Linked DNA regions of Homo sapiens: region 1 is linked to region 2. The links come from fine-mapping of genetic effects on gene expression. A gene starts in region 2. The other region holds a variant in brackets. All regions are shown on one strand. Distances are from middle to middle. Region 1 overlaps ACTR3 (actin related protein 3). Region 2 holds the start of LINC01191 (long intergenic non-protein coding RNA 1191).

Region 1 (15,611 bases), 35 kb after region 2:
CCTGAAGTGTGAAGTCATGACATTATAGGGACAGAGTTCAATATTTTGCCTTCCACCCAAAACATATACTTTTTACTGCATTCCTAGGGATAGGTTTACTCAAGATAATCAAAATATAGGCACTGACAACAGTCAGCCATCATGCAATTTCTCAACAATCAGCAAACCCTAGAGTGCTGTGCTTTACTTTTAAGTAATTCTGAATGATTATGGAAGTCTCAGATAAAGTCCTCATTCTTGGTAATCTTCCAAGCAGAAGGTATTTTATTCACATGAAATACCTTTTTTCAAACAGCTTTGAAAAAAGCCATATCATTCCTCTAAATCAACGTTCTGCTTCAATATTTAACAAGGATGAAAAAAATGAAGAATCTATCTCTAAATATAGAAAGTAGACATCTAAGAATTTTAAATTAATTTTGATTTTTTTTAACCTCAAGCCTAAAGGTCCAGGACATGTAATACAAAGGTTACTTTATTAAACCACCGATTTGACTGCACACTTTGAGGTTGCTATGTGGGAGCTAAAGTCAGTTTTTGAGAGCAGGCTTGACTACTCAACAATGGCATCAATCTCAACTCAGCTTTGCTGTCCTTCTATAGTATAAAACATTTTGTGGATCCATAATTAATTTGATTGTTGGTGTATGCAAAGAAATCTACTATATTAATTATCTATGAGAGAGGTATTTAAAAAAAAAGTCTTTCCACAGGTATTACTAAGAATTATTTTCCAGAAATACAGACAATATCCTAGAAGAATCAAATGATCCAGAATATCACAGACATAAATCTATAACATTAACCATTTCCATTAGAATACCTGACAGGTTCCTCTTATTTTTCTAAATCAGAGTGAATGCTGGCAAATATTTCTCATCCTAATCAAGGAAGGCACCCTCAACCTTCTCACCAATAATTGGGAAAACCAACCTTCAATCTACCACCACTCAATTCCTCACTTAATTTCAGCCGGGCATCTACAGTTCTTTTCAAATCTCTTTGCAAGCGACGTCCAAAGTCCCTGAACATGGTTGAACCTCCAGAGAGGACAATATTCTAGTGGAGAGAAAATAAATATAATATTTAAAAAGAGAAAAGTTTAAAGATATAATATATAGTACTGAAATGCTATTATATCCTTTTTATGAGAGGTGTTTAAGTTTTTTTAAAGTAAGACCTTGAATAACAATTTTGCTATAAATACCTTGTAGAGAGGACGTCTGACATCAATAGGACAATTCTGAATTACTTCATCTACAACTTCTGAGATAGGTTGTGTAAAGTCTGGATTAGCAAACTGAAAAATAAGTTGGATATATAATAGAGATCATATCACTACTGACAAATATCACAATAAAAGGTTAAACAAAGTTTTCAGTTCAAAAACAAAAGGCCTTTTAGAAACCACTAATACTGGTCTCTAACAGATTCAGATTGAAGACACTGAAATCAGAGAAAACTCAAAATTATGATGATATATACCATTTTATAACTATCAGAATAGCAAACATGTAAAGTCATACATATACTATGAGCTGGCAAAAATCTGGGTAAATGGAAACTTTCATATAACGCTGTGAGAGTATACACTGATGTAACCACTATGGAGAATAATTTGGCAATAGTAACATAGTGACATGGTCTGGCTCTGTGTCCCCACCCAAATCTCATCTTGAATTGTACTCCCATAATTTCCACGTGTTGTGGGAGGGACCTGGTGAGAGAGAATTGAATCATGAGGGTGGTTTCCCCCATACTGTTCTCATGGAGTGAATAAGTTGCACAAGGTCTGATGGTTTTATCAGGGATTTCTGCTTTTGCGTCTTCCTCATTCTCTCTTTGCCTGCTGCCATCATGTAAGACAGGACTTGCTCCTCCTTGCCTTCTGCCATGATTGTGAGGCTTCCCCAGCCACGTGGAACCATAAGTCCAATTAAACCTCTTTCTTTTATAAATTGCCCAGTCTCAGGTATGTCTTTATTAGCAGTATGAAAACGGACTAATACAAATAGCTAATAAAATTTTAAATGCACATACCAGTAACTCCACTTCTTACAACAAACTCTGAAGAAACTCCCCAAACATGTATGCTATTACATATGCATATTTACTATAGCCTTGTTTCTAAGAGGAAAAACCCGTTAAGTCCATCAATAGGGGATGAAATAAATAAATGTAGTCTAATCTCATTATTCATGATTCCATATTTGTGAATTTACCTAATCGCTAAAACATATTTGTTACTCCCCAAATCAAAATATGGTTATTCATGGACATGCACGTGTAGAGCAACAAAAATTTGAGTCCACTGATGTGCACATTCCCCATTGAGGTTGAACAAGATGATACTCTGCTATCTAGTTTCAGCTCTCATACTATAAACAAGTGTCCTTTTCACAGTTCTATTTAGTGGCACGGTTTTCATATTTTTGTTAGTGATTTCATTATTTAAAATGGCCCCCAAGCATACTGCTCAAGTGCTGGCTAGTAAACACAAGGAGGCTGTGATGTGTCTTACAGAGAAAAAGCAAGTTAGATAGCTTTGTTCAGACATGTGTTCTAGTGCTATTGAATATAAATGAATATACTAAAATGATATACTAAATGCAGTGCCTTTAAAAAGAAACACACATGAAACAAGGGTATATGTTAATGGGATAACAAAAATGTTACCAGAGGCTCAAAGAAACCTAATACTGTATTTCCCCTAGGAGCAATAGCTAGCTCAGTGTTCACTAATTCAGCGCTCTCAAGAACTTTTTGGCACATCTACTTTGAATAACAAACATCAGCTATATATTCAAACGATGATATACCATAGTCAAAATAAACTTACTATTTCCAAACAGCTGGCACTCAAGAAAAACATACTTTTTAAAAAACTAACTTAAACAAAAACAAAAAACAACTTGAAGCTGGGCATGGTGACTCACACCTATAATCCCAGTGCTTTGGGAGGCCAAGGCAGGACCATTGCTTGAGACCCAGAGTTTGACACCAGCCTGGGCAACATAGCGAGACCCTGTCTCTACAAAAAATTTAAAAACTAGCTAGGCATGGTGGCACACACCTGTAGTTCCAGCTACTTGAGAGGGCTGAGGAAAAAGGATTGCTTGACCCTAGGAATTCGAGGTTACACTGAGTTATGATCACACCACTGCACTCCAGCCTGGGTGACAGAGAGAGACTCTGTCTCTAAATAAATAATCAAAATCTAGCTCTAATTAGTGAAAAACAAACAAGTATTGTATATCTCCTCAGCCATTCATTTTTATCATTAGGTTGTCCTAGTTGAGAGACATTATTCCTTTATTTATTAAACTGAGTCTATAACTGTATTGATAATTATTAGGCATGTGTCAATTTTTTCTTTTTTTTTTTCTTTTTTTTTTTTTTTTGAGACCGAGTCTCGATCTGACACCCAGGCTGGAGTGCAGTGGCGCAATCTTGGCTCACTGCAACCTCTGCCTCCTGGGTTCAAGCAATTCTCCTACCTCAGCCTCCCGAGTAGCTGGGATTACAAGCGTCCGCCACCACGCCCGGCTAATTTTTGTGTTTTTAGTAGAGACGGGGTTTCACCATGTTGGCCAGGCTGATCTCGAACTCCTGACCTCAGGTGATCCGCCTGCCTCAGCCTCCCAAAGTGCTGGGATTATAGGTGTGAGCCACCACGCCCTGCCTTTTTCCAGTTTTTAAGATTAGTTCTAAATTATTTACAGGCTGCGCATACAATGAAAAGAGATTTAATGTTATCAAAGTGACACATACTAATACAAAATCTTTTCATTTAGATCATGTAAATGGAGTGAAAAAGACATAGGATATACGAAAAAGAGATCCAACACAAGAGAGAGGGAAAGGGAATCCCTAGAATGATAGTAAAGGAATATGGCAACTCTATACTGGGAACCGACAGAAGCAAGTTCAGATTGGGATGTAAAAGACACTTCAGAAAATTAAACTGATGAATAAACCCTATACATCTGAATATCCTGAGAAGAGATTTATATAACTACTGAAGAGAGTTTGGAGGTGAATGAATGGTAATTATTTTAGCACTAAGCAAACAGTTTATTAATGACTTCTTGGAAAACAAAGTTACTTATAGGAAGGGAAAAGATTTCATGGTTAACTACATGGCTCAGATATGAACAAAATTTGTGGTCACAAAAACATAAGCACTGAATTTCAACCTACTTGAAATTATAATGTAACAAATGAGATGAAAAGGGAATAGAAAGGTCCTGTCTGTGATGACAGAAGAAGGATAAAAAAGACAATCTTCCTCTTCCATAGTTGGAATTCGACAGACAACGCCTAACACAGGGCTGGGCACAGTGGCTCATTCCTATAATCCCAGCGCTTTGGGAGGGCAAGATGGGTGAATTGCTCGAGCCCAGGAGTTCAAGACCAGCCTGGGCAACATGGCAAAACCCTGTTTCTACGAAAAATACAAAAATTAGCTGGAAGTGGTGGCACATACCTGTAGTCCCAGCTACTTGGGAGTCTGAGGTGAGAGGATCACCTGAGCCTGGGGAGACTGCAGCGAGCCATGACTCAGCCACTGCACTGGGTGACAGAGCAAGACCCTGTTTCCAAAAGAAAACAAGAAAAGCCTAACACTGAAAAAAAATTTGAAGTTGCAATATAACCAAGCAATTCATAGCTAAGGAGGTAATCAGCAAAAGAAGCAACTAAGAAGAGTTTGAAGTGGTTACCTCTAGAAATACAAAACAAGAGAAAGAAACATGCAGGGCACCCCTAGTTTTTGTTAGGATACGCAGACCAAGACTTTTAAACCATGTGCATATATATAACTGATTTTTAAAAACAGCCTTTAAAAAAAAGAAAACAAAACAGGTTTTTTAAAAAGAGAAACAGGTTTCTCATAGAAGAAATTACTTATAAGGAACATAAAGCTATAGACAACAGAAAATGTTTTAAAGTTAAAAAATAAAGAAAAATTGGTGTATGAAACAATAAAGGTTATTCAAATTAATAGAAAAAATGATATATGAAACATTAGCAGCAAGACACATTTTCATCCAGCCAACTATACCTTTCCTAAGCAATATGAAACACATTTTATTTACATATCTAAAGCTTTGGGTTATTTATTTATGAGACAGGGTCTTGCTCTGTTGCTCACACTGGAGTACAATGGTGCAATGCCAGCTCGTTGCAGCCTGGACCTCCTGGGCTCAAGCAATACTCTCACCTCAGCCTCCCAAGTAGCTGGAACTACAGGCACACGCCACATGCCTGGCTAATTTTTTGTATTTTTTTGGTAGAGACGGGCTCTTCCCATGTTGCCCAAGCTGGTCTTAAACTCCTGGGCTTGAGTGATTCGCCCACCTTGGCTTCCCAAAGTGCTGGGATTACAGGTGTGAGCCACCACAACCAGCCTACTTCAAGGTTTTTAAGAAAGCCAAGGCATCAGCTAAGCTCATTTGTCAAGCATATTCCATTCAAATGCTCATCTCCTATATCCCATGCTATTATCCATCGTGTGGTCATGATCCTATTCATGCAGGACATTTGCTCAGGATCTTCTGCAATTTTCTAATTCCTGTCCCCAACTTGGAGCTTTAATATTCTTCTCTAAGATTTCAATTTCAAGTTAATTGATGTGCCTTAAATGAAATGAGGTCTGACACACTTCTATTAATCTACTCACATATAAATGGCCCATACAAAAATCTGTCCTAACTTCCAGCTACATGTGGTTATCTCTCCCGTCTCTTGACTCTCCGCTAAAATGACAGCAAGAGAATTAAAAGGAAAGGTAAATGACCAAGGATGAATCAGGGGGCAAAAAAACAATGAATACAATATTTCAATCCTGTTTGGAAAAGAAACTGTTAAAATCCTCTATATAGAATGAGACCCACCCTCCTCGGTTCCCTTCCAGACCGTGTATAACAAGAAAGTTAATTCAAACCCCAATAAATAAATGAATGAATAAATGACTGTACAAACAAAATGAAGCAAATTATACCATTCTGGACACGGGTATGGGCAAAGATTCCATGATGAAGATGGCAAAAGCAAAAAATGACAAATGGGATCTAATTAAAGAGCTTCTGCACAGCAAAAGAAACTATCAGCAGAGTAAACAGACAACCTACAGAATGGGAGAAAATCTTTGCAAATTACACATCTGACAAAGGTCTAATATCCAGCATCTATAAGGAACTTAAATAAATATACAAGGAAAAAACAACTCCATTAAAAAGTGGGCAAAGGACATGAACAATTTTCAAAAGAAGACATATATGTGGCCAAAAATCTTAAGAAAAAAAGCTCAACGTCACTGATCATTAGAGAAATGTAAATCAAACCCACAATGAGATACCATCTCATACCAGTCAGAATGGCTATTATTAAAAACTCAAAAAATATTCTCACACCATCCCTCCTAAAAAATGAAGGAAAGAGAAAATATTTTTAAAAAATAAATACAATTTAAAAAGAAAAAAAAAGGTGCTGGCAAAGCTGGAAAGAAAAAGAAACGCTTATACTCTCTTGGTGTATATTAGGTGTAAATTAGTTCAACCATTGTGGAAAACAGTGTGGCAATTCCTCAAGAACCTAAAACATAAATATTCAACCCAGCAATCCCACATACCCAAAGGAGTATAAATTGTTCTATCATAAAGGCACATGCATATGTATGTTCACTGCAGCACTTCACAAAAATAAAGACATGGAATCAACCTAAATGCCCATCAATGGTAGACTGGATAAAGAAAATGTGGTACATATACACCATGGAATACTATGCAGCTATAAAAAAGAATGAGGTCATGTTCTTTGCAGGAACATGCATGGAGCTGGGGGCCATTATCCTCAGCAAACCAGTGCAAGAACAGAAAACCAATTACTGCATGTTCTCACTTTTAAGTGGAAGCTAAATGATAAGTAAACATGTACATACGGAGGGAAACAACAGACACTGGGGCCTATCGGAGGGTGGAGAGTGGGAAGAGGGAGAGGATCAGGAAACATAGCTAACGGATACTAGACTTAATAATACCTGGGGACAAAACAATCTGTACAACCTCCATGACAAAAGTTTACCTATATAAAAACCTGTACATGTACCCCTGAACTTAAAGTTAAAAAAAAAGAAAATGAAGCAAATGAATAAACAAGGTGAAAGTGTAGGAAAAGCTGAATTTTAAGGGAAAAGAATCACATTACACTACTTGCCTCAAAAGTGAACAACAGTCTCAGGTATAATACTATAAATATTACAATACTATTGATTTACCTAATAACAATAACCTAACATGTTGGCAGGCTGGAAGAAAAGAGAGTCTAGAAAGAACTAATCTGAAAGGAGGCTAGCATTTAAACCACTAACAGTGACATATCAAGAAACAGCTCCATCCATGTTCCTGCAATACCATCACAGTATTTAGAAATCTGGGGGTTACTACCAAGAGCAATAACTAAAAGCTAGTGGATGCTCTATAGAACACAATGGCAGCAGGAGGGTGAAGAGCTGCTAATTTTAAGTCTGTCAGTGTTATTTGACCTTTAAAA[T/C]TGTGTGTATACATCCTCTTAATCTTTATGTTTTGATAAAGTGCAAAGAAAATGTACCACCAAAAACCTTCACACTCCAGTATACTAGTCTGACCACAATTCCTTATCCTTCTCATGCTCACTCCTCTGCTACCAATTCACAATTATTATGTGTCATTTCATCATGATCTCCAATACCTGTACCCTCACTATCCCTAGGTAATTCAGCTTTCAGGACTTGCTCTCTCCTCTATGCTGTAATACTTTAATCTCTGCTTTATCAAAACCTTTTCCTCCTTTCCCACAACTGTCTGGGGGAGGCGAGAGGACACTATTGCACAACTAAAAGTTTTGGGTATCTAACCTGCTACCTTGAGTAAAGAATGGATGCCCCATACTATTAATATGTACTCACTAGTCACCCTCTCAATTCCCCTCAACAGTAAATATGAAAGTCATTATTCTTCACAAGCCCTCAATTTTTTTTGAAATGAAGTCTCGCTCTGTCGCCCAGGCTGGAGTGCAGTGGCGTGATCTCGGCTCACTGCAAGCTCCACCTCCTGGGTTCACGCCATTCTCCTGCCTCAGCCTCGCGAGTAGCTGGGACTACAGGCGCCCACCACCACGCCCAGCTAATTTTTTTTTTTTTTTTTTTTTTTTTTTTAGTAGAGACGGGGTTTCACCATATTAGCCAGGATGGTCTCGATCTCCTGACCTCGTGATCTGCCCGCTTCGGCCTCAATTTTAGTCCAGTCCCTTCTCCCAAAACATAAGCTTGATTCCACCTCATAAAAAAATTAAAACTATGAACTATGATGATGAACTTCTTCAACTACCTACCTGTGCTTCTGCCCTTCCTAGTTCATTTTCCTGTACCTATACTTAATTCCTTCCCTCCTGTAACTGGAGTAAGCCCTCTTAAAAATTTAAAACTATCTTGAGCCTTATTCTTGCAACTGAATTCTTACTCGTCCACTGTCTTTTTCTTTCATAGCCATCTCTCAGAATGTCCAGACTGCTGATTTCCAAACCTTCACCTCTCACTGAGATAAGTAACAAGCTGCTCTAACGTATCACTCCATTGAAACGCCTCCCCTATGATCATCAATAACCTAGATGCTGAAAAACTCCAAGTACTTCTAAGGTTTCCTCTAATGTTACTTCACTGCAGCAACTGGCACTATTTACCCTCCCTTCTTGAAACATTCACTTCTCTCAATTTTATGACCATAATCCTTTAGCTTGGCTTCTACCTCTCTGTCATCTTCAGTATTCTTTGCAGGCTCTACTTACTCAGCCTGTCCACGTGTCTGTGTTCACGAAGGCCCTATTCTTCACCTTTCTACTCCACAGCCCCTTCTCAGCCAACCTCTTCCTTTGTGCCCCACAAAGGGTGATGACTTTACAACACCCAAGTGTTTGTTTTTGAACCTTTTAAAAGATGCATATAATAAACTCATCTTTGTCTATTTCACCTACTCCTCCCCTTCAGTATTACAAATTTCAGTGGATGGCACACTGGGTTGCCCAAGTTACAAACCTGTGAATTATCACAGATTCCTCATATTCTTACTCCCCTCATATCTAAGCAATTACTGATTATGTTGATTCTATTTTTCTCTCACCTCCTTCCTCATTCTCACTGACCCACAAATACTATTCATCTTTCATCTAAAATACTATAGTAAAATCACCTATTTCCAACACAATTCACACCTCTGTTCCAACCCGTCCAAACCAATGCTGCGAGAGTAACCTTTCTAATATGGTACACAATTATCTTCTATGCTTAAAATTTTTGCATGACTACAGAATCTAGCTAACTCCCTTGCATAACATATCTGCCCTTCAAGACTGGGTCCATGAATACCTATCTGGATCCCTCTCCTACCAATCTGTCCTCTATACTTTTCTTTCCAGCACTCTCATGTCTAAGACCTCTGCCTAGCTAACCTTCTGACAAAAATACATATACTCCCCTACCACACATGACTGACAAACACCCATTCATCCTTTAAGTCTCAGTTCAACCATTATCTCCCCTGAGATGTTCTCCCAAGCAGACTTACATGCTCTTTGTTCCTGTGCCCTCAGCAGATACATACACTCATTAAAGCAACTATAACCTTACGTGTTTAAATACTCATCTCTTTTATTCTTTGAGCTCAGTAAGAGCAAGATAAAATAATTTTTCATCTTTGAATACCCAGTGCTTAAGCTGAGATCATGAAAATTCAAACCATTTAACATTTGCTGAGTGAATAAACAAAATTTTAAAAATAACTATTCTTAACATTAAATAAGCAGAGTAAGTACGTAATATTAGTAATTCTATTAATAAAGTTACAATTCTGATACTAAGTTACCAGAAGAATTTTCCATTATTAAAAGTATGTATTTCTTAATTTAATAAAGCCTTTATGTTGCTAAAACTTCATAGACAGAAGACTATTTTGCTACTAGTTATATATTTTAATGGTTAATTGAAGGTTCTTTGTATAATGGTCATTTTACACAAATAGGGAGGGGGGGAGCTTTCTAGAACCTTTCCCAAAATATTTTATTTCAATTACAAAACTTTACCTGAGTCCATGATGGAGGGAAGAAAAAAAAAATTTAAGGGCTCTCCTCTTTTCATGACCCCCCCATAAGCCACACATATTTTTTAAAAAGTTTTTTCTAAATCTGCAAAAAATAGCAACAATTTTGCTTATTTTAACAAAAGCAAATTTTTTCTTTAAAAAGTTCATAAAATGTTTTATAAACTTTTCATAAAAACTCAAACTTTTAGTGTACTAATAAAAGTTTCTGAGATTAATTCTCTCTGAATATCTATTAATTCATATTTGCTGCTGAATACTTTTAAACAATTCCGTTAAAAAAAATTACCTCTGGATGAAAAAAGATTTCAGGTCCCAAAAATCTCTCATAACCAACATCGATAGAAAACTCTTTCTTTGAGATAGCATTGATTCCAGTATACTGTTTAATCCATTTTGACCCATCTGTATCATACTTGTTAAATTCTTTTACTAAATCTGGGCAGACATAACTATAGCGCTCCTGAAAAACAAAGAAACAAAAGTAACTTTTTTTGCTTATTATAGGAACAGTAAAGAAGAATGGCATGTTTTCAGTAAACTATAATCCAATAAAAAAAAAAAACTCTTCAGAAAATAAAATTAGGAAATTAAGCTGGAAGAAAAATTTGTTAGGATATTATCATATGTGTAGTACAAATAAACATACTCATCTCCTACACATATTTTCTGACTTTAAATATAAACAGTATTTGAGAGACTGGAGAGCTGACTTCTACTATTTCAATGTTATTTCCTGAAAATGTTCACTAATGTCATTCAACATTTTCTGTCTCAGTAATAATGAATCTTGTGCTGTAGGTAAGGAGAATAAATAAAATACAGAACTGAAGAATAAGTAATAATTGTGATAACCACACAAATTAATATAGATCCTTAATATCTATCTGAAACAAAACTGATTACGGTCTGAGTAAATAAAAGAGCAAAGAAAAAAGGCTAAAAATATAAATTACTCTATTTTGTTGCATATTTGGTTATATGACCTAAGTAAAAGTTTTCATCAAAAACACTGAAAAATATATTATAGATTATAACATCATATTTGTAATTTATAAACTCCCAACTGCCAACCAATATTTGTTTTATTTTTTTAAAAAAACTTCCTTTTCCAGTATTTTTACACATCACAGGCACCATCCAAGATAGATGCAAATATTACCAGTAATAATCAAAATACACAAAGAGAAAAAATACTGGAATCCGAAGACATTTGATTACACTATTTGAGGTCTTCTCCAAACCTTGGAAGTGAGAATGACAAAGAAATGATATTCCTTTAAAGACATTCAGAATGACCATCAATCTTCTCTGGAATAGATTTAAATCTCTGGTGTTTTCTCGTTTTGCTTTAATTTCACAGATTTCCCAAAGATGTTGAATCAGTAGTATTCACATTAACTTTTTATATATTTAATTCTTATGCCACCAACTTGGGGTAACTTTTGGTAGTCATTTACTAATTTACTACCTAGGAAGTAGTTGATAAATTTTCATTCTTAAGCTCTGACGAGCAAGGAAAATCCCATAAACAAGCAAAGAGGCCCAGGCATGGTGACTCACATCCAGCACTTTGAGATTCCGAAGCAGGAGGATTGCTTAAGGCCAGGAGTTCAAGACCAGCCTGGGCAACATAGCAAGACCTCCATCTCTACAAAAACTTAGCCAGACATGGTGATATGCATCTGCAGTCCTAGCTACTCAGGAGGCTGACGCGGGAGGATCACGTGAGCCCAGGAGTTTGAGGCTGCAGTGAGCCACGAGTGTGCCACTGCGCTCCAGCTTGGGTAGCAGAACAAGATCCCATCTCTACAAAAAAAAAAAAAAATCAATAAAAATAAGAAATTAAAAATTTTAAAAATTTACAGGTAATTAAAAAAAAAAAAACCATGGAAACAGAGACAAGTAAGTTACTTTTGCCATGGCAGTTCTGCTTTTCAAAACACGTGAAACCCACTGAAATTTTTTGGTTATGTGGCAAATAATAAGTTTGAAAGACGATGCTAAAGTATTTTGATAGTTTGCATGAAGCACTGATATAATACTTACATGGCAGAAAAAAATTAATAAAATACTTTAGATAGCCTTCATGTTTTTCTTCTATGTGCCCTATCACTTGAGCCAAGCACTGCTTCTATACTATAGCACAATGAATCAATTGTATCAAAATAATTTTTATGACAAAAGCTTTTAGAATTAAAATAAAGAATTCAGTGAAGAAACTGAGATGCAAGGACTTTATAGTGAAATAATTATTTATTTTTAATAAAGAGAATAATCACAAAAATTTATGTTAATGTCATTTGGTAAAATGTTCTTATATTACTCCTCTCAAATATAAAATATGAAGAAAACAGAAGACAAACTGCTGTAATAATTTTCTTTTAAGAAACACAAAGAAAATGTAAATATATTTAAGGGTAATAATTTATAACTGGTTAACAAGATTATTTCAAGTACTCTTCTTCTATTAAAAATTTCTCACGTTAATGTTATAAATGTGATTTTAATTTTTAACTAAATTACACTCCTATCACACTTTTTACCTTTACTGCCTTAGCAGTTTCCAAGGATTGTTCTGGAGGGATTCCTACTTCTCGGTCTCTCAGCAGTTGCTGAATAAAATATGTTATATCTCGTCCTGCGATTGGAATGTGTTTAATACAGCTGCCAATCACATACCCTTCAGCCTAGAGAGGGGAAAAAAGATACCAAATTTACTTTCAATGTTTTGAAAATTAATATAACCCAAAAATATGAACCAATAAAGACCAATTTATTAAGTTAGTGTATTTATAGTCTCAAGTACTGCTTTATCTCAGAACTTACCTTTATTCCTCAGAAACTATAACTAAGAATGGCCAGCAACTTAGATTTATTTTCCCACTGACAGTTTATAACTATGACTAAAATAACTCAACAATATAGAAATAATAAATTTCAAAATATAAATATCAAATGGTTTAGATAGCAGACTTTATATCAGATGGTACTATTTTTAAATCATTTATAATTTCAGTAAAAAATTTAGATTGCTTCATAAGAAATGTGACAAAGTGCTTATCATTTTCCTAATCAAGTATGTATCCATTTCACAAACCTGAAGCTTTCCACACACCATCATAATGCCAAATAACTAAATTCTGTAGAACTGATTCACAAATTTACTGATGTGTCAGAAGTATAACAAATAGTGTGGCAAAATTAAATTTCATTAGGAAAGAATATTAAGGATGCCTTCATCTGGCATGACAGAATATTAGGGATTGAACTTACCCTCTCAATTTAAAGAGAAAACAGGACAATTTATAAGAAATAAAGGTTTTCGGCCGGGCGCGGTGGCTCACGCCTGTAATCCCAGCACTTTGGGAGGCCGAGACGGGCGGATCACGAGGTCAGGAGATCGAGACCATCCTGGCTAACACGGTGAAACCCCGTCTCTACTAAAAATACAAAAATTAGCCGGGCATGGTGGCGCGCGCCTGTAGTCCCAGCTACACGGGAGGCTGAGGCAGGAGAATGGCGTGAACCCGGGAGGCGGAGCTTGCAGTGAGTCGAGATCGCACCACTGCACTCCAGCCTGGGCGACAGAGCGAAACTCCGTCTCAAAAAAAAAAAAGAAAGAAAGAAAGGTTTTCAGACATTTGACAATCGGCAGAGTAGGGCAGAGATACTTTCTAAGAAAAGGGAAACAAATAACGTGAATGTTACACTCTATCCTACTGCCTAGGGAGAGTTACTAGGCCACAACAATAGGAAAGAGAACTCAAACTGGTCTCATTAAGTTAGGGATATAGAATTTAAAGGTCAGAAAGGCCAAAGTGGCTGAAGTTTGTAGGCCAAATTATTGGAGGGGGAGGAGTTGAACCAACAGGGAGCTGGGAAGATGTGAAGAGAGTACCTCCTTAACTGAATACTGATCAGCACACTCCTGTGAGGAAACCATCAAGGTGAGAGAAAGGACCTCTAGAAAAAAGTAGACAGAACCACCACCAGAGCTCACACATAGCCAGAAATAGTTCCTGATCCCACTAGCCAAAGTTGAAAGATGTTTTCAAACACAAGACATGAAGTAGAGTCCTCAGAAGAATATTGCCTCAAGAATGGGGACAAACCAGCCCTGGACAAAAACCTGTTACGGACCTGCTTAATAACATTTAAAAGGAGCCCCTGAGAGGATCAAACTAGTTCCTGGTATCTTAACTATGTCCCAGGAAAAAATCCTAAATACTTATAAAGAACTCCAAAAATACAATACACAACAATGTATAGAGTGCCAAATCAAAAATTATAAGCATGCAAGGAAGCGGAAAAACACAACACTTAACGAGGAGAAAAACCAAACAATACAGAGGAATGACAAGGACAATAAAACAGCAACTATATACTCCATATAATGAAGAAGGTCAACAATGAGGATGAGGAAGAGAGAAATGGAAGATATAAAAAGACCCAAATGGAACTTCTGAAGAAAAAAATACAGTATCTAAAATTTAAAAATCTACCAGATGAAAAGAAAAACACTAGATGAGATTACAGTGGACTACACAGTGAAGAAAAAATAGTGAATTTGAAGACAGAGCAATAAAAACTATCCAAAAAAAAGAAAAAGATTATAAAAAAATAAATGTACAGAGCATCATGATCTTTGAGACACTGTGAAGCAGCCTAATATACATGTGATTAGAGTACCTAAAGGAGAGAAAAGAGGAAGAGAAAAAATATGTAATCAGTAACAGACAAAAACTTTCCAAATATGATGAAAATTACAAACTATATATACAAGAAGCTCAATGAACCCCAAGGAGAAGAGACATAAAGAAAACTTTACTTAGGTACATCACAATCAAATTGCTAAAAACCAATGAATCAGGAATAAAAAGAAAATCTTGAAGACAGCCACCCAAATAAACATTACATTCAAAGAAACACACACAAGAATAACAGCTGACTTATTTTCAGAAACAAGGTAAGCCAGAAGACAGTGGAGTGACATCTACAGGGGAAAACTGTCAACCTTCTATACCAAGCAAAAATCATCTTTCAAAACTAAAGGAGAATAAAGACTTTTTCAAAGGATGTACAAAAGTTGAAAGAATTCAAAGCCAGCAGATCAGCACTATAAGAAATGTTGAAGGATGTCATTTTGACAGAAGGAAAATGATACTAGGTGGAAATCTGGACCTTCACAAAGGAATAGAGAGCACTAGATATGGTACGTGAATAAAAGAACTCAATTTCAAGGCTGGGCACAGTGGCTCATGCCTGTAATCCCAGGACTTTGGGAGGCCAAGGCAGGTGGATCACTTGAGGGCAGGAGTTCAAGACCAGCCTGAGCAACATGGTGAAACCCCGTCTCTACTAAAAATACAAAAAAATTAGCTGGGTGTGGTGGTGCACATCTGTAATCCCAGCTACTCGGGAGGCTGAGACACAAGAATCGCTTAAACCCAGGAGGCAGAGGTTGAAGCGAGCTGAGAT
Region 2 (15,611 bases):
CTCTATGCTCTGTCTCCTCTACTCAGCGCAGGTGCCTTCACTCGCCCTGGCTCTCCCCCTGCCCAACCTCCCAACTCCTCTCCAATTGAGAACCTCCCTGGGAACACTCCACAACACCACCCCCCAGAGGTTTCAGAGTTCCTTCCTACTTGCTCCCATCATTCCTCCAGGGCATAGCCTCCAGGGTAGCCAGAACTCGCCGTATTTTATAGCAGGTGTTTCTTGACCTCTCTCCACCACACTGAAGGCACTTAGAGGACAGGCACGGAGGCTTTTCACCTTTCTTCTGACATATAATTTTGGGCTTAGACATAAATGTTCAAGAAGTATTTCTGAATAAATGGATTAAATAAAATAATGAACAAACAAGCCAACAAACGACTGAATGGCACTGATGATAATAGGTATTCACCTCTAGGGTAAAAACCTGCTTCAATAGTGCTTAGGAATCCTTGCCTTTAGAACACTGAAATTGGACAGTGATGTTACCCTTGTGAAGTTATTTGGGTTACGTGGAAATCAGGGGAGTTGGGATAATCCAAAGAGGAAAAGGCATAAGAGGCCAGCCTGAAGAGATTTTCAAGTTTCTGCCGTATTGGTGTTTTTCCAATAGCCACAAGGAGATATTGCAGCTCAAATCCACCTTTTCTTAGCAAATAAGCTCCAAAAGATGATTCAGAGAAAACAAATTCCATTGAAAGCCACGTTCCATTAATCAGGGGCTCTGAGAGGTGACCTGCCCAGGCAGCTATTGGCCTCTTCTGCCATTTTATATTTCCTCTTTAATCAAATCCCTGGATGCTACAGTTCTCAACTTGCAGAGATTTAAAAGGCACTTTGATTAATGGATTTGATCAGTGTCCGCTCTTGTTTAACCATGGTGCTCTCCTCTGCGTTTCACACCCACATCACACCATCCCCTTTTATTACAGGAACTGAAGAATGGGATGGCCTGCCAGACAGCAGAGTAATTTATGAAAAATATATTTTTAAAGGGAGAGTGTATTAAAGCTTGAAAAGAACTCAGAGCCTGTTGCTATTTTAATTTTAAATAGGCTATGCAAATAATTAAACGTTAGGTCATATTGACACCATCAAATTTGGGAGAGTATAGATGGTATACAACCCCAGAGTCCTAGAGAACAGTAAATCAGATCTATCAGGGCACTGCATCATATCCTGCTTTTGACATGAAACAACAGTATCGACTGGGTTAAAAATGAGCCAATTTTCAAAAACCTCTACCTGCTACAAACGTTTTCACATATACCACAGCTCTTTAAAAAGAGATAAAGAGAAATTGAGATGAATTCATAAATATATTTAAGCACTAAATCCCTCTTTGGTTTTTTTACTTTTCTTAAGCCTCTCCTGCCTCACAAAAGCCTATTTCAAATATTGACTTCAAGGAGAAGATGGATAAGAACAGCCAATATTCAGGGCTAAGGTAATGGAAGCTGCTCAACCTACTTTAAGAACAGCCAATATTCAGGGCTAAGGTAAAGGATGCTGCTCAACCTACTTTAGAACAGTTTAATTTGGATATTTACCTGAACTTTGCTCATGGCTTTGTACACCTGAGTCTCAATCAGGCACACCAATACGTACTGTGTACTTTGAGCTATATACTGTGTTCTGTGGTGCAGCTCTTTCAGATTAGCAGGAAAGTTTTACAAAATCCTCTTAAAATGACATTGAGAAAGCACAAATTATCAGTGAATAAATATTTATTGTGCGCCTACTATGTGCTAAGAATTCTGCAACGTTGTAGAAGTGTCATGATGAATAAGACAATGAGGAGAAGAGATAGCAGAAAATGTGCCTTTCTTCTTTTAAGTTGCCTAACTAGTGATTCAGGGAATTCTTCCTTCCAGAGTATCTAATAACTGGTTATCCCACAATGGCCCAGAATTAAATTGAATGTCAAAAGGAAACCAGTCTTGCATCTGGGATTGGTTGGTTGGCCAATAACCACCGGTGACAAAAGCTTTGCGTTGACCCCAGTAATTTGTCTCTCCATTGCCCACGGCAGACATCACTAATCAATGGCAGCATTTGGCCATCTATTCCACAGTTATTTATTGAGTGACTCCTACATGTCAGCACTCTCATAAGCACAGCAGACCCTGCAGTGGTTGAGACAAACAAAGTCCCTGCCCTCTTGGAACTTACATTCTCGTGGGGAAATAAGGCAATACACAAGAAAAATAATTTTAGTTAATGAGAGGTGATAGGAGTACAATTAGGTAAGGAAAGGGGATAATGTGTGCCTAAGGGAATCGGGGAGAGACGACACTTTTTAGCTAGGGTGATCAAAGTTATCTCAGTAGAGGTCACATCTGGAGAGAAACCGTGAGATCTATTCCGCTGGCTCCTCCTAAGCAGAGCACTCCAGGCAGCCACTACCAGTCAACTGCTGATCAGACATTTCTGTGCTATGAATGAGCCCTGAGTAAGGCATACTAGGGAATGGAGAAGAATCCAAAGTAAAAAGCATTCAATGTAGCTATGGGATACATGTTTAACAAAATCAAACATTACAAGATTGAAAGAAGACTTGAAATACTTGTATTCTAGTCTTATTTTAACATTTTAGACTCTCAGTTTCCTCATTAATGAAATAAGAAGGTTGGATGAAATAATCTATACAATTCCTTTTAGATCCTATGGTCAATAATTCTAAGAAGTAAAGTGGGGTTTTAGACAATTGGAGAGAGGGTAGATTAAGTAGAGAAGTATTTTTGTGAAAGAGGTCATTTGAACAGTCAGAGGAGAAATGAGATGTACTATGACTTCCTGGAGGCTTCTGGATAACCAGCAGAGCCACAGTCAGCTCCTGATTTTGCAAACAGCTTCAACTACCACAACCCAAAGCAGTTTTCACCTTGAATTCGGCATGTAAGCCAACTGGCGTGGTCTTCTCAGCCGTGTGCACATTCAAAATCTCCAGCATCCCAATCTGTCATCTGCTCATCTCAGAACATAAAGAGCTACACAAGGCAAATCACCACGTTGTGAGACAAAGAAGGGAGGGTTATTAGAGATTCATCGGAAAGAATCCGCCTTTCACTGCTGCCTGCGACAGGAGAGCCACCATTTCAGAAGTGTCACAGGAGAGAATTACAGGTTTCCACAGTCATGATGGGTCTGGATCAAGACTCAGGTATTTATTTTTAAAATTCTTGATTTTGCTCCACAATAGCATTAAAAACAGGACCCACGTGCATAAAAATGTCCCCTTTTTATACAGGTAGTAGTTCAAGTTTGGGTCCTTAGCCATAACCCAGATACTTATATGTTACTATGACACTGTGAGTTTGGATGATAAATGATTCAAATTCATTTTGTGGGTACAAAGTGCTTCATAAATACTTAATCTCCAGAGTGATTTCAACTTAGAATTTCTGACCCTATTTGGACTTCTCTTTATCCAAGTCACACCGGGTCCTTGTTCTATTTGTAAATACGTAACGTTCCGCACCAGCCTCTGCACCACTCCCCCTGCTGCTGATGGATGCTGACTTGGGTCCCGCGCCCAGGCAGCCTGAGAGATGCAAGAGAAGCCAGGAATGGTCTTTTGAGTAGCCTGTGATCCCAGAATAGCTCCACTGATTTACTATATCTCCCGTTTTCCGTGCTGTGGAGCAAAGATGGAACTATCTTTGTGACCTCTGCCAGATCACAGGGATGGATGTTTTCTTGAGAGGATGCTCTCTCCAGAGAAAAGCACATGACAGCAATCCAGCATTTTGGAGGTACTAACTGTTCATCCACCAAATCACAGTCCCCAGCCTTCTGCCACGAATGAAACAGAAGGTGATCAGGGACTTGCTTTCTCTGGGAACATACTAGAAATGGAAGTACAGATATCATCTCTTCTATTTCCCTCGTAAAATAGCACTCCCGAAGACACTCACTCAGCATGGCTTTGGCCTACACTCCAGAGAGCCTTGAGGATCAGGCTGGAGTCTACTGGCCAGAAAAGGCGTGGTTAGTTATAGAGCACAGCAGCAAAACTACTTAATCTCTCTGGTCTTCAGTCTTCTCATTTATAAAATGAATGTTTAGGTCTGTCTCTTGGGCATTAACCTCATGGTAGCCTATCTGGTAAACAAGCCTGGTTTGAAATCCCATCTGGCACTTACTGCTTGTGCTGCCTGGCCTCAATTTACTTGTCTGTATAATGGAAACAATACTCACTTCAAAGAGTAACTGTAAGAAAGAGATTAGTTAAGCACATGGCACAATTGTTAAACTGCACTGAGCTGTCTCACCTTATTTCTGTAGACAGAGTCCTCTTACATTACCATCCAACAGAGTTCTCTTTCCCATGGAAGTGCTTGCTAAACCTGAGCACCTCCAAATCCAATTTGACAACAAAATTGCAGTGCAGCCCAAACCCTGTTTGAATGAAGAGTTTATCTGGATTGTTTCTGTTGAAGATGAATATCCCAGGCTCATCACACCTCCCCACTCATGAAATCTGTGAGAACAACCAGGCGTGCAACACAAAATGGGGAAAGGAAAAGCAGACCCCCGGGAGAGAGTGTTAAGTGCATATATATCTGCTCTATTATCTTAGTGGCTTAGGACAACAACCATTTTAGTTTATCTCATGATTTTGTGGGTCAGTTTCAGGCACATTTTAACTGGGTGATGGTATCAGCTGAGGTCAGTCTGTGGTATTTAGATGTTGAGTGGGCTGGACTGGAGGGTCCAAGACAGTTTCACCCATGGTTTGGGGGTGGGAATGGCTGGAGGGCTGGGCTCAGCTGGATCCATCTACTGGAGCATCCACCCATAACTGTGCCAACATGGCGGTCTCAGGGTGTCAGACTTCTTACACGGTAAGTTGTTTCAAGAGACCAAGGCAGGAACTTCAAGGCTTCTTCTGATCTAACCTTGGAAGTCATGCACCATCACTTCTACCACATTGTAGTGAGCAAGTCATCAAGGCTGGTGCAGACCCAAGGAGGGGGATAAGACTTCACAGTTCAACGGGACAAGTGGCACTGAACTGGCAGCCATCTTTAATCTACCTCAATATCTGAGCCTCAGTTCTGCTCTGTAGAATGGGCTATGGGTAGACCTCTCCCATCTTCACATCCATTCCAGTGTTACCGCCAATGTCTTTAATATCTAATGAGGAAGCCAAAGGCGAGAGGTCACAGGGCAACCAAAAAACTCCAACAAGTAGGACTTAGAGGCTCCCCTGACTTGCCACCATCTCAAAATAAATTGCTTTCTTCTATGTTTGAGTCTAGTCTGTATCTAGAACCACAAAATAATAATAAAATGAGGCTGGGCGCGGTTTGGCTCACTTAGTGAATACAGCCTGCTACAATTCAGTTAGTATATATTATCAATGGTAAATAAAGTTCTGGAAACTACATCGTATGAGGAAAGTGTGGTAAAAAAAAAAAAATGGGGAGGCACCTAATCCTGAGAAGAAAAGATAAGGGAATGCAACATTTACTTATTTTCACATATTTAAGTGGGTATGGAAAGCTATTTTCTGCTCACTAGAAAGCAATGGTTAACCACTAGATAGAAATTACAAGGAAAAAGATTATGCTTAATACAAATTTCTGGTTTTTTTCTTTTGCCTTCACCCCCACCCTCACCTCTAATTTCTTTTAATAAGATGGAGAAATCAGTTTTTCCTAACAGCAGTTATGGAAATACCTCTAACCATGGTAGTGATTTGGGCTGTTTACCAATAACCTAGTGCTCACTTCTTCTGAGCACAGGGTAGGACTTCATTTCCCCACCCCTTCCAGGTTAGGAATGGCCTCCTGGCTAGCCTTGACCAAAGACATGCGATTGGAAGTGTTGTAGATTACTCCATCCAAAAACACTCCAAGAGCCAGTGTGCAAATTACCACATCCCCTTTCTCTCTTCTGGGCTATTGACGAGTGGAGGCACCGTTAGCCTGAGTCCTGAGTGAGGAGACGGAGCAGACCCCTCAGCAAGATTGTCAGCTCAAATACAGGATGGCCAGTTACACCCGAATTTTAGGAAAAAATAATAATTTTTAGTATGCAACATTTGAGACATACCTATACTAAAAAATTCGCCGATTATCTGAAATTCAAATTTGAATGTCTTGTATTTTTCTTTGCTAAATCTGGCAACCCTATCCTTAAGTGATTCACGGTAGTTGTGAAACATCAGGAAGAAATAAACCTTGTTATTTTAACCCACAGAGATTGAGGATTGTTACTGCCAATAACTTAGCCTATCCTGACTTAACTACTTCCCATCTCTGGTGAGGGAATATGTTGATGAGGCCTAAGTGTAGCCCCAATATTTGAAAGGAAGAAGGCAGTTTCTGTACATAATAAAAGAGAAACTTGGGAGCTCTGGGACATAATTTAAGAAGGAAGGATGGGTAGAAAATTGGTGTAACACAGCCTCAGCCATCGGGGAACTTCACGTCTACTTGGAAAATAAAAATTAAAAAAAAAAAAAAAAAAAAAAAAAAACGAAAAAAATAATGGTAGAGAGAAGTCCTGAGAATAAAGAGGCCATGTGGGTTTGGAGCAGGCATGGAAGGACTTCATGGGGAAAGGAGGTTTGCCTGGCCAGGAGATAAGCAAATAAGTAGGACTGGGGATGTAGAAGGGCTGAGAGCAGCCATGCCCCAGGGAAATGAGTAATCATGGTTTGTCTGTGAGGTTATTGTCTAGAATTGCCAGAGTCTACAAGACCAGCTGTCCCCGAGGGTTGGAGATAAAGTGCTAGGTGGTGTGGAAGTTGTAAGAATCAAAATGGAGTTACTAATGTTTTTTCTTTAAAAAAAAAAAAACTCAGGCTGTGCGCAGTGGCCCACGCCTGTAATCCCAGCACTTTGGGAGACTGAGGCAGGCGGATCACCTGAGGTCAGGAGTTCGAGACCAGCCTGGCCAACATGGTGAAACCCCGTCTCTACTAAAAATACAAAAATTAGCTGGGCGTGGTGGCGGGCACCTCCCAGCTACTCAGGAGGCTGAGGCGGGAGAATCGCTTGAACCCAGGAGGTGGAGGTTGCAGTGAGCCGAGATCGTGCCACTGCACTCCAGTCTGGGTGACAGAGCAAGACGCCATCTTGGGAAAAAAAAACAAAAAACAAACCAAAAAAAACTTGACAAATAGAGCTAGGGAAAGCTAAGAAGAAAGCACTCCCACACTTGTATGCCTGATAACAAAAACTAACACAAAAGGCTCTACAAAACCATAACCTTGCACAAAGGCCATCACAGCCTTACACATATATATAAAAAAAAAAAAACAAAAAAAAACCTCCACAAGGACATTCGCCCAGCAACTGCCTGTCTAACCTTGGACTGGCAACCCCTTGTTATTGATCTCTGTAGCCAAGGATAACCATTTGAAAACAATTATGAAATCCTCCTTACTTTCTCTTTGAAAACCTTCCTCTTCCTTTCTTCCTCTGCCTCCTCGAATATGCACAGTTTACTATGACATGCGTGTTACCGTTGCAACGCTCTGCTCCTGAACAAACGCCTTTCTCTAGACAGCCTCTCACTGTGTGGTTATGCAGCTTGACAGGGGCCCGCTGGACCCAAGTTTACTGCCTCTGGCAGGCGGTGGTGATGACGGGGAGTAAAAGCACCTTGTGGGGAGTTGAAGGGAAAGATATTTCAACGCAAAAACCCAGGCACTTTTACTACCTTTTGTTTGATGCATCGGTGTTACGGGAAAGCTCCTTGGCAGCGAGGGCCTGGCTCTTTATCGCCGTGTGTCCCCGCCCCACGTGGGTCCCATGCTTAGCCCACGGCGGGTGTTTGAAAAGCACGGAATGTATATGGCGGGACAGGGCGCGCTGCGGATACACCGGGACGCCCCCTCAGCCGCGACAGTAACGGCCTCCGGCCACCAGGGGGCAGCCAGGGCGCGCTGCGGATACACCGGGACACGCCCCTTCAGCCGCGACAGTAACGGCCTCCGGCCACCAGGGGTCGGCCAGGGCGCGCTGCGGATACACCGGGACGCCCCCTCAGCCGCGACAGTAACGGCCTCCGGCCACCAGGGGGCGGCCAGGGCGCGCTGCGGATACACCGGGACGCCCCCTCAGCCGCGACAGTAACGGCCTCCGGCCACCAGAGGGCGGCCAGGGCGCGCTGCGGATACACCGGGACGCCCCCTCAGCCGCGACAGTAACGGCCTCCGGCCACCAGGGGGCGGCACACGGCGCCTCAAACTGTAAACGGCTCCGGGCTTCGGAATCCGGGCGGGGAGCGGAGAGCGGTTCGCAAAAGCCAGTTGGTGCCCGGATGCCGGCATTGTCACGGGATCGCGGCCAAAGGGGGTAGAAGACAGCGCAACAGTCGCTCTTCTTGCATGAAGCTATATGCATCTAGTGTGACGGATTATCCTACCTGGAGACTGTCTTTTTCAGCTCGGCATCACGGGGGCGGGGGCGGTGACCCCCATCCGGGCTCCCCGGGGGCGGTGACCCCCATCCCGGCTCCCCGGGGGCGGTGACCCCCATCCCGGCTCCCCGGCCTTCTCTCCTCCGCCCGCTCCTGCCTCCCTTCTGCTTACTCCTCTCCTGGTCAACAGGTCAGCTCGGGGTCCTGCTTCCAACCTCCTCCTCCTAGTTGAAGCCGGTTCTCAGGAGAGAACCTGCCATCCGCAGCTTTACACCTCGGCAGGAATGTAAATCACTCTTCTCCCGTCCCAGGAAGCCTTTCCAGTGTTCTGATTCCAGAAAGCAGGTGTGTGTGGCCGGTTCAAGGAATTTCAAGCATCAGCAGGCAGAGGAAAGTACCAGAGTGGAAGGCAGCCCACAGGGTGTCGAAATCAAGCCACCCAGGGAGCCCGCAGATCCCACCCTCTCCGGTGAGAGAGTTTGGTGGGGAGCACTTCATCCAATGCAGGGAACAGCGTTACTGCGGCCTTCACCTCCCGGCTTCAAGTGATTCACCTGCCGCAGCCTCCCAAGTAGTTGGGATTACAGGCGCGTGCCACCACGCCGGGCTAGTTTTTGTATTTTTAGTGGAGATGGAGTTTCACTATTTTTCTCTCCCCATCCCGGGAAAGTTGTATCTGTTTACCACATGTTCTCCCACATCTACTCGGTTTTACCTCTGTAAGGCCTGAACTCAAAAGCCAAGAAAAAACCTCTTTCTCCAGAACTTTACCTTTTCTGGCAAAAGGAAGCAGGGAGACCTACTAGGAAAATGCCAAGAACAAAATGATTAATCATGTGAAGACGGCATCTACCACCTCAAATCGCCCAGCTCATTGAACCTGCGTGAGGATCCAGCACTGTCCCTGGTGTGTACAGCTCAGTGCACCGAGATGACCAACCGCCTGGGTTTGCTTTACTGTCACTGCTAAAGGCAGGAAGGCAGCTGCCAAACCAGGACAAGGTGGTCACCCCACGGTGAACATCAGTCACCCTCCCTAGCCCACACAGGCAAACAACCGGGGGAGACTATGGCTCAGGGCTTAGAACCCAAAGGCCTGAACAAATGAGGAAGTTTCTACAACAAAGACTTTCTTTGACAGAGTAACCAGTCATAATTTCTGAGCATTCCAGGAGCGCTGTGCAGAATCACAGGTATTTGGCAACTAGTGGGATAAAACAAAGGTGCCATTGAGGATGTTTACAACCAACCCCTCTCCGGAGATAACCTCAAGGTCTTTCCCTTGCACATGGCCTTTCCATGACTCATCCACAGCAGCTGCCTCCCTCCACCACACAAAGGACCCTGCAAGTTCTGTTTGGTATTCTTGAGAATAAAAACTCCGTGGGTCGTTCCCTGGAATTGGTTCTCACCCATTTTCTTTCCTCTGACCGTAGCCAGGATAGGCATCTAATTCTATAGCTTGTCCGTGGAATGGAAAAACAATTTGGATTTTCACAACCTGAAACCTAATTTCTGGTAGGAAGGTACCATCTGGTGGATATTTGTGAAACTGCTCACGTCCTGTGTTTGAAAATGAGCATCTGGGGGCAGCGTGCCTCTCCGAATGTCAATAGGAACGTTGCTCCGAGAGGAGGAGAGATCCACACTCAATGTGGCTGATCCCCTTAACTATGTGACACTGTGTATGTGACTATGTCATAAGCAGCGTCATCCCTGTTTACAGTTTTCTCAGTTTACAATGAATTTAAATAGCTACCCATTGCCTCTTCCTCTCCAAGCGTACTCCTTGCTCCTCCGTGACAGGCACATTGATCTATGAGAGTTGTCTCTTGGGAAATCTAGTCATATCTCATGCGAACATTTTCTAATTGGTGCACCCACCCCTCTGTGGGCATGTTCGCACAGTGTCATGGGCCCTTTGTGGAGGGTTGTCCCCTTTGTTCACCACAGCCCCTCTCTCTGAGACTCTGCACCCCCTATAGGAGGTCGGGGGTGTCTGCCATGTTTGTGGGACTAGCCCCCAAACAGCAGGGTGAGCAGGGTTGACCACTTGCTCAAGCTGGGCAGTCAGATTCTCACTCTCTTGAGATCTGGAACCAGTATTCAGAAACCACGAACAAGTGCAGCTGGATCTGCGGTGGGGTGGACCCCAGCGCTTAGGGGCATGCTGCTGCTGCCATGTGCACAAAGCAGCAGCCCTGCCTGGCCTGCAGAGTGAGTACCAGCCCAGAGCAGAGACAGCTGGAGAGGCCCTTCTGCCTATGCCCTGAGGCAGTCCACATCCCTGGGCTGCATTCTGGCCCTTGAACTTCATGGGTTATTCTGTTATAACAATGAATTCCCCTTGATTACTGAAGCAGGCTCTGGTGGTTACTTACATTTAGACACACACACACACAGAAACACACACACCCCTGCTGATGAAGGTCTATCAGCAGATCCTGAAGCCTGACCCAGGGGGTCTCACAGAAATTAAAAAAAAAAAAAAAAACATGCTTCTAATCAAAAAAATGTTAAGGGATTCCATGTTCCGTATACACCTGCTGTCAACGGGGAGATAAACCAACCTGCCCCAAGCCTGTTTGAAGGTTTCAGCAAGGGAGGCCACTAAGCCTCTGCCTCAGCTGAAGAGCAGAGGCTGTCTCCACAGGAAAGATCATCCCCCATGATGTAAACGGTTTGTGGAGGAAGTGCATGGTGCAGGAGGAAGGAGGCACTCCCTAACCAAAAGGAAGTTGGAGTTTTGGTGGGGAGAGATGAGGCAGCCAGAGAGAATCTCCATGATGCTGCCTGGGCTCCCCAGAAGCCGACTCTGAGCAGAGTTCAGTGGGCAGGAGATTTATTAAGGAGTGTTCTCCGATCCATACCTGTGGAAGGAAGGGAGATGAGGCAGGAGTGGGTAGAGGGAGGAGTTGAGCTGTGAGAGGGCACAGCAGGAGTCTTGGCCCACCCTACAGGGAGCTTTGGAGTTTTAATGGCCTGTCAGGCTTGCCCATGTTGGGCTAAAATGGCCTGGCTTTGTCCTTCTGTGTCAGTCAGTCACTGGATGTGGGTTGCCCCACGAAGGCTGCGACCTTGGATGAGGAGGGTCTCTATAGCATAGAGCTAGCTGTCTGCTGTCTGCTAATGGGGTCCCATCAGTGTCTGCTGCATGCTGATGGGGCCGTCTTCTGATGGGGTCCTAGCAGTGGGGTGGCAAGTCCTTCCCTGTGGGAGTTCCTGATCTGTGAACACCAGCTGGGTTCCTCATGAGATTTCTACTACCTTGTTAAGGTCTCGTGCTGTCTAGGAGATGGCATTGTTCTTGTTCTCTTCCTTCAATGAGAAATTGACAGAAATAGATGGTTTAAATTAAACTATACCCAAAAGGCCAGGGACTAGGTGAGGAATATTGTGAAGTCATCATCAATTTTGTTCCATTTCTACTTTTGCTCCTTTGCCCTTCCCTTTACATACTATTCCTCCCCTCTTTTTTATTTTCTCCCCTCTCTCCATTCCTTCCTTCAGTTGTTTTTCTTTTCCCACAGGATAAGCAACAGGACAGGCTAATTCACACTGTAGAATAAATGACTGCTAACTAATCATTCCAGTCCAGTGCCATCTTCCATTCCTGCTGCAGTCCAGATGTGCATCACAACTGGATTTAGATCATGTCCTACCTGGTCTCCCTTCTCCATTTCTTCTCTAGTCCACCTTGACCACTGAAGCCATATGAAGCATCACTAAATGCCACCTGCATCAGGTCACTCCCTTGTTTAGGAGAGTACAGTGTCTCCCCAACCCCTTCCAGGCCCGGTTCAAGGACAAGCAGCACTGGCCCAGGAATTAGAGGCTCAAGGGGCCATGTAGCTCAGAGGTTAGGAGCATAGGCCCTGGAGCCCAACTGCTGTGCGAGTCTCATGATTTCCAACAATTACCAGCTCCATGACTTTGGGCAAGGTACTTACCCTCTTCTGTCTCAGTTTCTTCATCTGTCAAGCGAAAATAACCTACTGTGAGGATGTGATTAATCTAGTGAGTACAATAGGTGCTTGATCATCTTAGCCGCTGGTGATATTATTTGTGCTATTAATCACTGAGTATCAAGTACCTAAGTGACCCTGACCTTGGACAAGTCACTTCACCTTGCTGGGGAGGGATCTCAGTTTCCTCATGCTTAAATTGAGGGGATTGCCTAGGTCATCCCTAGGGTCCCGGCCAGCCGCAGCATTCAGTTTCTCTCATTCTTACCATGTCATTCAAGGCTCACCCATCCACACACATTTCCACACTACAGCTATAATTTTGGGCTCACTCTCATATAAACCTTTGTTCCTACTCCTATTCAGCCTAGCATTGTCCCTGCTCCCTTCAGTGTGTTGTCAATCTTACTAGATTATAGGACAGAAATAGGTCTCTTTTATCTTTGTGTGCACACACAGGGTCCGGAATAGCTTCTTCTACATAGGTTTTCACGGAATGCTTTTGGCCACTTTCCAGCTATTCATCTTGCCTGACTCTACCCCTCTGGAACCACTCCTCTAGCAGAAGCCCTGGAAACACTCTGGCTTTTTCAACTGCCAGTTTAATTTGCCACCATCTGTCACAGCGTATGAGTTCCTGGAGGCCTAGAGCACATCCTCTCCCAGAGGCTTAGCGCAGTGCCCCATCCAACCCCAGACAGAGGTAATTTATACACACAAAAAGGCCAGGGTCATTGTGGGAGAGGGAAAGGAAGGCTGAAGTTGGAAGGAGACAAACCCTTGCAGCCTTCAGTTTCTGAATTGTTCCCACTCAGTTTGCAATGACAGAATTCTAGGAATTCATTTCTAAATGTTTAGAAAAAGTAGTGTCTTTGTGTACAGTAATCTTCCAGAAAGAAGAGATCATCCTAGCTATATTGTTTATTCTTTTGTATATTAACACCTGTGGCACCCACTGTAAGTTGTTTGGGGTTAGACCATGATAAGAGAAGAAACTGACAAAAATTCTCAAGATCCACAGGAATGGGAAAGGGAGGTGGGAAGTGACACTTTTTTCTAGAGGTATCAGTGATAAAATCTGTAATACAGAATACAGAAGCCACCACAATGTGAGCAAGTGGGGCAGCTTTGGACACGTGCCTTCTCCCTAGAAGGTCAACAAATACATTCCTGTATGTTTAATAGATGTATATTTGGGCCTGTCACACTGGGCATACTGAGAACACTCACTAGAATTTCCAAGAACTGTAACATTCCTTTACAGAGTAGCCAAATTTCTAGCAAGCAGAGCCCTCCAGGACATAGCCAGGCCTGTGGAGGTCAGGTAGAAAACACCACAGCATCACTGCTCCCCTGTGTGTGCCACCAACGGATGTGCATTCAAGCAGCACAGAACAACTCAAGCCTGAGCAAACCGTGTGCTTCCAAGCATCATGTTAATTGTGAAGCCAATTCAACATGCTGGGAGTCCCTTTTGTGCTGCAGATATAATTCTGAAAATGAGTGCAGACAAGTGCTTCTGAATCCAAGGTCTGGTATTTCCCACTTTCGCCTTGCCAACCTACCCAGCCAATGCTAATGTCTGTTGTTAATGCCGTGTAGTTTGGCCTCTGATTAATCTGATCAGAGGACATGTGCCCAGTGTCTCTTATTAACACTTCATAGTACGGTTCCTAACCTAGGACTTGCTGCCATTTGCTACGAACACGATAGAGTGATTACCGATTGACTTTTGGGGGATCATCTCTACTGTCTTGCCTGGAGCTGTTGGAAAAGGCCTCCTTTATAGGTGCTGCTTCAAAATCCTGCCTCCTGGTCCTTAAAGGGCACATTTTATAAATCGCATGTATTCAGAGTAAATACAGCAAAAAAATCTCTTGAGGGGTTGTGGTCATGCTGGAAAACAACCAGAGCTGGGACTGCTCCCTCCTCATCCTGGAATGTATCACCCATCCTCTCCTCCACTGCTTTCCAAGAAGAGGACTGACCCCTCACTCTTTTCCAGAATTAATCCACTTTTCTCTCACTTTCCATCCCACCATCTGTTGCCTCTTCTGGGAGCTTGAGTCAAAACCCGCCCCTTCTCACTTCTGCCTCCTTAGCCTCAGCGCACAGGTATGCTCGAGGCTTCCAGGAGAACTAACCCAAGCAACCCGCTTCCAACCTATCCTCCAGCCCTCACGCAACCATTGAGCTTTTTTCCTTCTTTAAGTGCATATTTCTTGAAAAAAAAAAAAATAACAAGAGCTGTTTCCAATGATTGGAGCTGTCTCATTATTCTCCCTTACTCCAGGTCTCCTTGCAATCCTCTTCAATTCCCATTTCCCTTCTTAAGTTGATCCCTCAAAGGCCACCAGTGATCTTCCAACTGGGAAATGTAATGACCTTTTATTCAGTCTTTATCTTTGTCATCTCTCTGTAGGCTTTGGCATTTCTGCCAGCTATTTCTTTCATGTCCTTTGCTCTCCTCGTTCCCAGGACACCCTGCTCCCACTCATAATACTGTGGCCACCCCCTCCTTCCTTTTTTGGCTCTTCTTCCTCCTTGGGTCCCCTGCATGCCATTCCCCGAAGCCCTGTTCTTGGCTTATTTCCCTCCTTTACCTTTCTTTTCTCAAGGTTTCAGCATTCACCTCTTCATGTATTACTCTTTATCTTCACTTTCAGTTCTGCTAGCGATCTGTTTCTAGATAATGGATATTATCTCCAATATACCCCTCAAAATCAACAGGTACCAAACTGCACTTACCATTTTCCCTCCTAAATAGGCTCCTCTTATTCTAGATATTGTACCAACATCCATCCTCACCTCTACACCAGTCACCTCAGTCACCTCCCAGGCTAAACAACTCAGCATTGGCCTTCCTCCACTGCCTTTCCCCAGGTCTAATTATGTCCTAAATCCCATCAATGCCACCACTGCACTAGCCTTCTCATAGCCCCCTCTCCTCCCTGTTCCCATGCTCCACCCTAATCCAGGCCTTCATAGTCTCTTCTCTGAATAATTATGTGGCAGACCAATTGCCTGAGATACTAACTTGTGTTTTTTGTGCTGCCTTTTCCCTCCTCTATTCCATGAAAAAATAAGCACCCTGTGCATCCTTGGCTTCAGGTGAAGGCTTCCTGGCTTTTATTGAAGAAAGCACAGTTAGTGCTTTTGAGGACAACAGGAGGAGAGGGAAAGACTAAAAGATAAAAGAGTGGAATACTACTCAGCAACAGAAAAGAAATACTAAACAACAAAATGGTATGAACTATTGATTTCTATAAT

Evidence for each region.
Region 1: its variant is fine-mapped to the expression of LINC01191 in whole blood (INTERVAL, PIP 0.92).

What each region holds. Positions count from the first base shown.
Region 1 is chr2:113,937,168-113,952,778 of GRCh38, reverse strand. ACTR3 (actin related protein 3) reads right to left here. Exons shown (of 12, transcript NM_005721.5): 7 at 12,677-12,820; 8 at 10,420-10,593; 9 at 1,208-1,300; 10 at 934-1,059. Among named protein-coding and RNA genes, the nearest start is that of LINC01191, 35 kb to the left of the region's middle. The variant T/C (reference allele first, on the strand shown) is at 7,552.
Region 2 is chr2:113,972,192-113,987,802 of GRCh38, reverse strand. LINC01191 (long intergenic non-protein coding RNA 1191) reads right to left here and starts at 8,234. Exons shown (of 2, transcript NR_148509.1): 1 at 7,675-8,234. LINC02992 (long intergenic non-protein coding RNA 2992) reads left to right here and starts at 7,819. Exons shown (of 1, transcript NR_034130.1): 1 at 7,819-10,134. RefSeq lists a silencer at 7,937-8,126 and an enhancer at 8,217-8,366.